2 linked regions of the Homo sapiens genome follow. The protein of the gene in region 2 interacts with the protein of the main gene of each other region in a biochemical or structural test. Each region holds a gene or a part of one and is shown on either strand. Other genes may lie near its edges.

Evidence for each region. The genes of interacting proteins can lie anywhere in the genome.
Region 1: the proteins of EPS15L1 (region 2) and SGIP1 form a complex in vitro, tested with the Homo sapiens proteins (one study listed by BioGRID).

What each region holds. Positions count from the first base shown.
Region 1 is NC_000001.11:66,747,031-66,750,783, reverse strand, and holds part of SGIP1 (SH3-containing GRB2-like protein 3-interacting protein 1), read right to left. Parts: 3' UTR 1-3,753.
Region 2 is NC_000019.10:16,402,280-16,406,032, forward strand, and holds part of EPS15L1 (epidermal growth factor receptor substrate 15-like 1), read right to left. Parts: intron 2,471-3,753; coding exon 2,309-2,470; intron 1,652-2,308; coding exon 1,454-1,651; intron 207-1,453; coding exon 42-206; coding exon of another isoform or gene 27-41; exon of another isoform or gene 1-26.

The DNA.
Region 1 (3,753 bases), on a different chromosome or scaffold from region 2:
GAGCAAGTAAGTCTTCGCTTCCGTTGTTGGTTTTCTCTTGAGCACAGCATAGAAGCAGTAAAGCTTTCATTACAGACTAAGCAGTAATGGCTGTCAGAAAAAAGTATACTCTTTTGAAATAGACGTGTAGGAAAAAGGCTGGGAATCAACATTTTGACTAAATTTTGAAAGTATCTTGAGTATTTTAATTCACAGTTTTGTAAGTATTTTATGCCCAAGGTATTTTTGTGAAATTATGTACTTAGTACAAGATTAAAAAGAAATTTAGTGTATTTTTGCTACATAGATCAAAGAGAGCTCTAAATAAAGGCTACCACCAAATCAAATTACACACAGCATTTTCCTTAATTGACAGGATTTCATTACCTATAGAAACACAGCAAAATCTTTCTGAGATTCCTAGATTCTTGCATTGTTCAAGTTTAAAAAAAATCAATGCCTTACATGGCCACTTAGTAAGAATGAAAATTAATATCCGAGTATTTAATTCATATGATCTTTTACTATACAAGTGAAAAACAAACAAAAACTCTTTTTAATCGAAAACAATAGTGTTCAAACAGCTTAAAAAGCCAGCTGTATACATTACTGCTTGGCCTGTGGTGAAGCTCTGTTCATAGATAAGATTAATATATCATCATATCAACACTTGGCTTTTTCAAGAAAAATTATTCAGCAGCAATTTTCCAATTCCCCTTAGACAGAGAGGAAAGAGACACACACACACACACACACACACACACACACCCCCACACACACACAGAGAAAGAGAGAGAGAGAGAGAGAGAATATGAATTAGATAGGAGCCAATCTCTTTCATGTATGTCCATTTAACAAAGCAAGAACTAAATTCTGACCTGAAAAATCAACACAGCTATATGAATTATCATTCTAGCAACTTGAAAAGGGAAAAAAATCTGACTTTGGATCTTGGGACAGTGGTTCTTGTGATAGTTACTTGTTGTATGATTTAAAATACCTTAGAGTGATGGTGAATGAATAACATCAAGCATTTACTTTGCGAGAAAAAAAATTCATAAAAGTAATGTAAAACTGAATGAGCGAGATGGAATTAACATTTGTATGATATACTCATTCAATGGAACGTTTAAAAATTATAAATGGCTTATGATCTATCAGGCTGATTCACAAACTCTGGATGGATTAAAAACTGAACTATCTTTAGAGAAATGTAAAGTGATTCAGTTTGATTCTTTTCTATATGATAACAGACAATTTAACCAGGAAGTTTTTAAAGAAACTTCGTTAATTTGGTATAAAAGTAACTGATTGGCAAAGTAAAGCAAAGCAAAAAAAGAAAAAAAAACAGCAAAAAAAAAACCCTATGAAATGCTCATTAAAAGAGTATAGAATCTCACAAAATCTGTGCTAAACAGTGCACTGCTCTTAGCTTTCCCCAAAGTGTTTTTAATATAATTTCTGACAAGCTGATGTAAAAATACTGTCAACATTGATCTATCATGATTCAGTTTCCTAAAGCTGTTTAGTAAAACGTTACTGGAGATTATTCACTGGCATTAATTCCACACGGCAAAGAATTGGAAACATCTTCAACAGATAGGGGTCTGATATGCTGGTCATAGGTGCAAGCCTTAAAAATAATACAAAAATTAAAATAATTTTATTGTTTTGTTTTGAATATTTTAGATGATAAAGTTAAATTCACTAAGAGATACTAATGAAATTTAAAATAGATAACAATTCATTTGAAATGACAGGAATTCTCTTAAAATTAAAACAAAATTCCAGAAGCATTTTTTTCAAAGCATTCCTGGTTATTTTATTTACAATTATTGAAGGATATATAAACTAGTGTTAAAAGAAAACTTTTCCAAAGGTTTCTCAAGGTGTGCTTAGAAAAAATTTTTTTTACCTGATTCAATAACTTTCTTAAGCTTCATTAAAACACTAACATTTATTGTCAATGTCCAAGGAGAGAGAATTATAGTATAGGACCATTTGTTCTCAGACCACAATGAACATCTTCCAGAACACAATTTGTAAAATACTGGAATATTGGTGAGCATAGCCCAAATACACTTTACTTCTTTTCTTTAAAACATTACGGGACATTTAAAAATATATTTGTTTTTTGCCAAAACATTTTTTACAAGGATAAAGATGTATTTAAGGTAGGCAAGGTATTACTCTAGGGATAGAAGGAGGCAGTTAGAAATCAAAGGAAAAATAATTTTAGAAGTTAAACCTAGAGAATAAATTATTATACCCATGGTCAATGCCAACAAATAGGTGTCTTTTCCTCATAGACATACCCATTTAGGAGAGAAATCAGATATTAAATGTGAGGGCCAATCAAGAGGTTCACCATGGTCAACTCAACAGACTTTACATTTGACATTCCTTCATGAAATATATTTAGATCTTAATTAGATGTCAGCAGTGCAACTCTAGCTTGCAGAAGATGACAGAACATTGAAGCAATGACACAAGAGAAAGGCAAGTGTTTTGTTGTTGTTTTTAATATTTAGAGACTTAAGCAATGTACTCCTATCTCATTTTCCTTCCATACACTCCACTGACAAAAAGGAACATTAATGGTAGCCATATTTAATTCATAAGTGAGAGAATGGCATTTAGATACTGTTTTCCACATGAAAAAAAAGCCTAAAGGAGCAGGGAAAATACAATAAAACCTTAAGAGGAAAGTGCACACAGTAAAAGATGGTGAGGCTGGTCATCCAAATAGTCCCTTTAATCAATGTAACTTGGATTGATTTGTTCATTTATATCAACAATCTAATTTGACTCATTGCATGGACACATCATATTATATTAACTTTCAAAGCTATATTTAGAGATCACTCTTGTTTTGATATTATTAAATATAATGTAACACTTCCATTTTTTAAAAAAATTGCTGATCAGAAAACCATGTGGCAAAATGAGTACATTTAGACTGAATGGGATTTTGCTCAAATGTATAATCTTTTGGAAAAGGAAAAGCTTAAACACAGACACATACACACACACTCATCTGTTTAGTATGTATCTGCATATTCTACTGTATTGTTCAATTTAATTTACAGCCTGTGGTTATTTTGAGAAAAAATATTCGTGCAACTCTTTTAGAATGAGGCTACCACATGTTTGTAAAGTCAAAAGCTTACAAAATAAATAGGTTCAACTCACAAGTTAGAGATCTGAATGTCCCTTGCAAAGAAGGAAACATTGATTAGGATTTTGTATTTGAATAAATAACAGCTTGCAACTTCCCTTCTACTTCAAGTCTTTTAAGACATTGAAGAAAAGGACAGAAATATGAAAATGAGAAAATGCATTTCAGGCTACTTTGAGACTGAGATAGTATAACAGAGTAACTTTAAGAAAAAGATAGGGATTTTCCTAGGGAAAAAAATTTTTTAAGATTGGAGGAAATTAAGTGGACTGAATGAAAAATAAACTGACTAGAAAAATGGTTTTCATCTTAGAATTTAATGCTTAAAATCTGATATAATGTCAGAACTAAGAAGGACCTTAGAGATCTACTAGAGCAATGATTCTCAAATTTGGAGCACTTATCAAAATGTATATTCCCAAATCTCATCCCTAGAAGTTTATGCTGTCAATACAAATTTATCGATGCCTACTGTGTATAGCTTGTATGAACTTGATTATACATGTTTCCTTATAATGCCACAAAAGGTGGTATATCTGAGTAAAGTAGAATCATGGAATTTCAGAGATGGAAGACATTGATATGTGGTAGATCAT
Region 2 (3,753 bases):
GACCAGAGCCCCATACTGTAATACGTTTATTCAACCTTTACCATGGCTCCAAAACTGCCCCTCTCTGCCAGGGAGACGCCTTCGCTCAGGTTGGCCAGGTCGGTCAGGCTGGCACCATGGGCTCCATCGAGCACCTGGTCATACTGCTCCAGGCTCCTGTGGGCCTCCTGGCGGCTTTCATGCAGCTGGGAAAGTTTGCTCCTTGCCTGTGCAACAAAGACATCATCAGCATTAAGCAGGGTCAGGAAAACATGTCAGAAAAGACGCTTTTTTTTTTTAAAACACAGGGTCTCACTCTGTCACCCAGACTGGAATGTAGTGGAGTGATCATAGCTCACTGTAGCCTTGAGCTCCTGACCTCAGGAGCTCCTCCTGCCTCAGCCTCCTGAGTAGCTGGGACTACAGGTGCGTGTCACCACCTATATTTTTGGGCAACAAACCAAGACCCATCTCTGCAAAAAATACAAAAAAAATTCTGTATTTTTTGTAGAGATGGGGTCTCGCTATGTTGTCCAGTCTGGTCTTGAACTCCTGGCCTCAAGTGATCCTCTTGCCTCAGCCTCCTAAAGTGCTGGGATGACAGGTGTAAGGCACTGCACTGCGCAAAGCAACATATCTTTGCTCCTGACACCCAACTACAAACTCTAAGGGTTAGAAGAGAAAACACTGAAAGTAATCCTACAGATATTAACCATAAAGCACAAGAAAGGGTGGTAAATCTCTGAGCGGTCCATGCTTGCGATCAACTGTGGCCTATAAACTGGCTAATGGAGCACAGACAGAGACCAGTTCAATTGGTAAAAGAAGTGTGCCTGGCCACTCCGACACAGGCGAGGGCCAGTGTCACAACCACTGTGTAGACTGGATGCCCAGGGCCAGGACAGAGGCCTTCATCTACTGCCCACAGGAGAGCAGGGAAGGGCAACGGCTGCAGGCCACGAGAAGCCAGCGCCCCCCCCTGGACTGGGAAGAGGGTGGGGGCGTCCCAGGCAGCTTAGAGAATGGGGGTCCTGCATGGCGTGATGCTCCAGGGTGGCGCCTCCTGAACACACCAGTGGCTGTGGAGGATGACGTCTGTTCTCTTGCCCAAGGACAAAGAAGTCATCTCTCTGACTTTGTCCCTCTTGTTTGTGTGAGGACCAGGCTGGAAAGAACCCCAAGTTCTCTCCAAATGAGCCATTAATTAAGTGTTCCCACCCCACCCCGCCTACTCCTTGAAGATGCTGTGTGCTCAGGAAAGGAAAGTGAACTCCTCCAGGCCAATGCCAACAAACTCTGGAACATGCCCTGGGGAGTCCTTGGCCCTGCGCCTCCAGGCCAGCACCACAGCCTCCCAAAAGAGACCCTCACGTAAGTAACAAGGGTGAGAGCAAAGGAGTTCAGCAGTGGCAGCCTCGGCTCTTGGGGCTCGCTGGTCCCTGGCATGTGGCAGGGACCCGACTCCGTGAAGTACCTGGTTGATTTCGTCTTGCGTTGACTTCAGGGACTTGATGATGGTTTCCAGCTGGACTCGCCCAGCCTGAATGCTCTGCTCCAGCTGGGTTTCCTCCTGCTGCAATCGGTTCAGCTCCGACTTGGCTCGGTTCAGATCGTCTTCCTGGGACTTTAAGTCAGATTCCTGAGATTGGATTTGCGTTTTCAGTGATGAGATCTGAAATGAGATGTTAAAAGATGTTAAAGAGATTCACAGTGCAGGATGAAATGGGACTCCGAGAAAGAACTCTTAGCCCCCATCCCCGAAACAAGCTAAGCCAGGGACGCAGACACCTAACCCAGGCCCGACACCTGGCTTCCTTACAGGCCTCTTTCTACACCCAAAATAGAGACACAAATGAAAAGGCAGATGGGCTCATCCCACTGTGGCTAACGGAAGATCACTTTGGAATAATGAGGGGCATGACCAAGCACGAACAATCTGTCCATCCCCCCAGAGGCTGAACGTCATAGAGTTTTCTGAGGTTGCAGCCTCCGGGATCTGTGAGGAGCCTCAGAGACACCTGAGGAGGGGACACAGGCACCCTGGAACTCCCTGTGTTGTGGGGCACAGCCAGGTGGGGTGTGTTCAGGGCACAAGTTCGCAGGGACCAAGGCCATTCACTTATACAACCTGACTTCTAGGAGTACAGGGGGGTGGCCAGGAAGTCAAGCCACAGGTGCTTGGACACTTTTCCACGTGGTGTTTGGAGGAACTCTATTGACCCAGTAGGATGTCTAAGTGTTGTGTTCCCAGGTAACACGAGCTCAGGGGAGTCCTTGGGAAGCCCCTGCCTGTGCATAGGGCGCTGCCCCGGAGGTGGCCGGGACCCACCATCTGAGTCTCATCCTGGCACTTCTGCCGGACGTCGCTCAGCATGTCTCGGAGCTTGGCCTTCTGCTGGTCCATCTCGTCCAGGCGGTCTTGAGCATCCTGTTTCTGAGCCTCGAGCTCCTGCAAACTGCTTGTTTCCCGGTCTAGGTCATTTTGTAATTCCTAGGGAGGAGTTGCAGGGGTTTACGTGAGGATGGGAAAAATGAAGCATGTCCAAGATAACGGGGGGCAGCCTGGGCCAGAAGTCCAGGGGAAGCCTCCGAAACCACCCACTGTGACCGTGCTCAGGGCCAGCATTCCGTGCACACCCACGGCCAATGTGTGCCTCTTGGGCTGGAGGCCCAGGGCCACTGTCTCACCAGCTCCCTCAGCAGGTATTTCCCGATGGCCTAACAGAGGCCAGGTGCGAGAGAAGGGGCTGGGTCCCTGTGAGAAAAAGGCCCCAGCTCCCGGATGACATGCAGCTGTGGCTGCGGAGGGGAACATCACCCAAACGCAAATAAACGTGGACAAGTGGCACCAAGGGGGTCACAGGGAAACTACAGTCACACCTTGTGGGCAGGGAAGATGCCCACAAAAGCAGCATTTAGGATGGGGCCAACAGGTGAGCAGGTGCCAGGCAGGTGAAGAGCCAGGGACAGAGCCTGGCGGAGGGAACCACAGGGACCCCAGGGTCGGGGGGTGTCGCACTCCAGCTAGAGCAAAAGGGAATGGGTGGAGGCATCAGAGGCTGCACCCCACAGGCCACGCCAAGGAGACTGCGCTGGGCTCTGTGGTGGGGAGCCCGGTGGGATGTGTGAGTGTGGGAGGCGGGACATCATGATTCTGTTTCTGAAGCTCTCTCTGACCCCGTGGGATGGATCCAGATGGTCAGCCCGAGGCTCCAATGCCCCATGATTCCACTTCCAAGAAAAGCATCCTGGAAGCATACAGCGTGTGCAGAGGTATACAACGTCTATGACAGCAAAATCCGTAAACAATGCAGATGTCCATGAGGTGCTGGCTGGAAGGTTCCAGCACAGCCCACACTGTGGGACGCTCCTTGGCCATGGAACGGGATGGCGCCGTGTGCTTTGCCTTACAGTGGGACATGAGCACACTGCATTTGTGCGAACGGGAAGGGGAGGGTATGTGTGGTATGCATCAACCTTTCTGGAAGGCCCCCTCCAGGAGCTCATGAACAGCACCTCCGGGGATGGGGACACCCAAGAAGAGGGCAGAGGCTTCTCACCTCCTGATTTTCAACCACGCAAATGCATTATCTGTCTTTAAGATAAATAACCAAAGCTGAAATAGCACAACGGGCATTGTGACAAGCCTCCTCCCTCCAGCTGCCATGTGGAGCGTGGTGCAAGGGGCCATCAGGACGCAGGAACTGCAGGGGCCTCGGGTGGGGTCCAGGGAGAGGCAGCAGCAGCTGGGGCCTGAGTGAGGTGGTGGTCGTG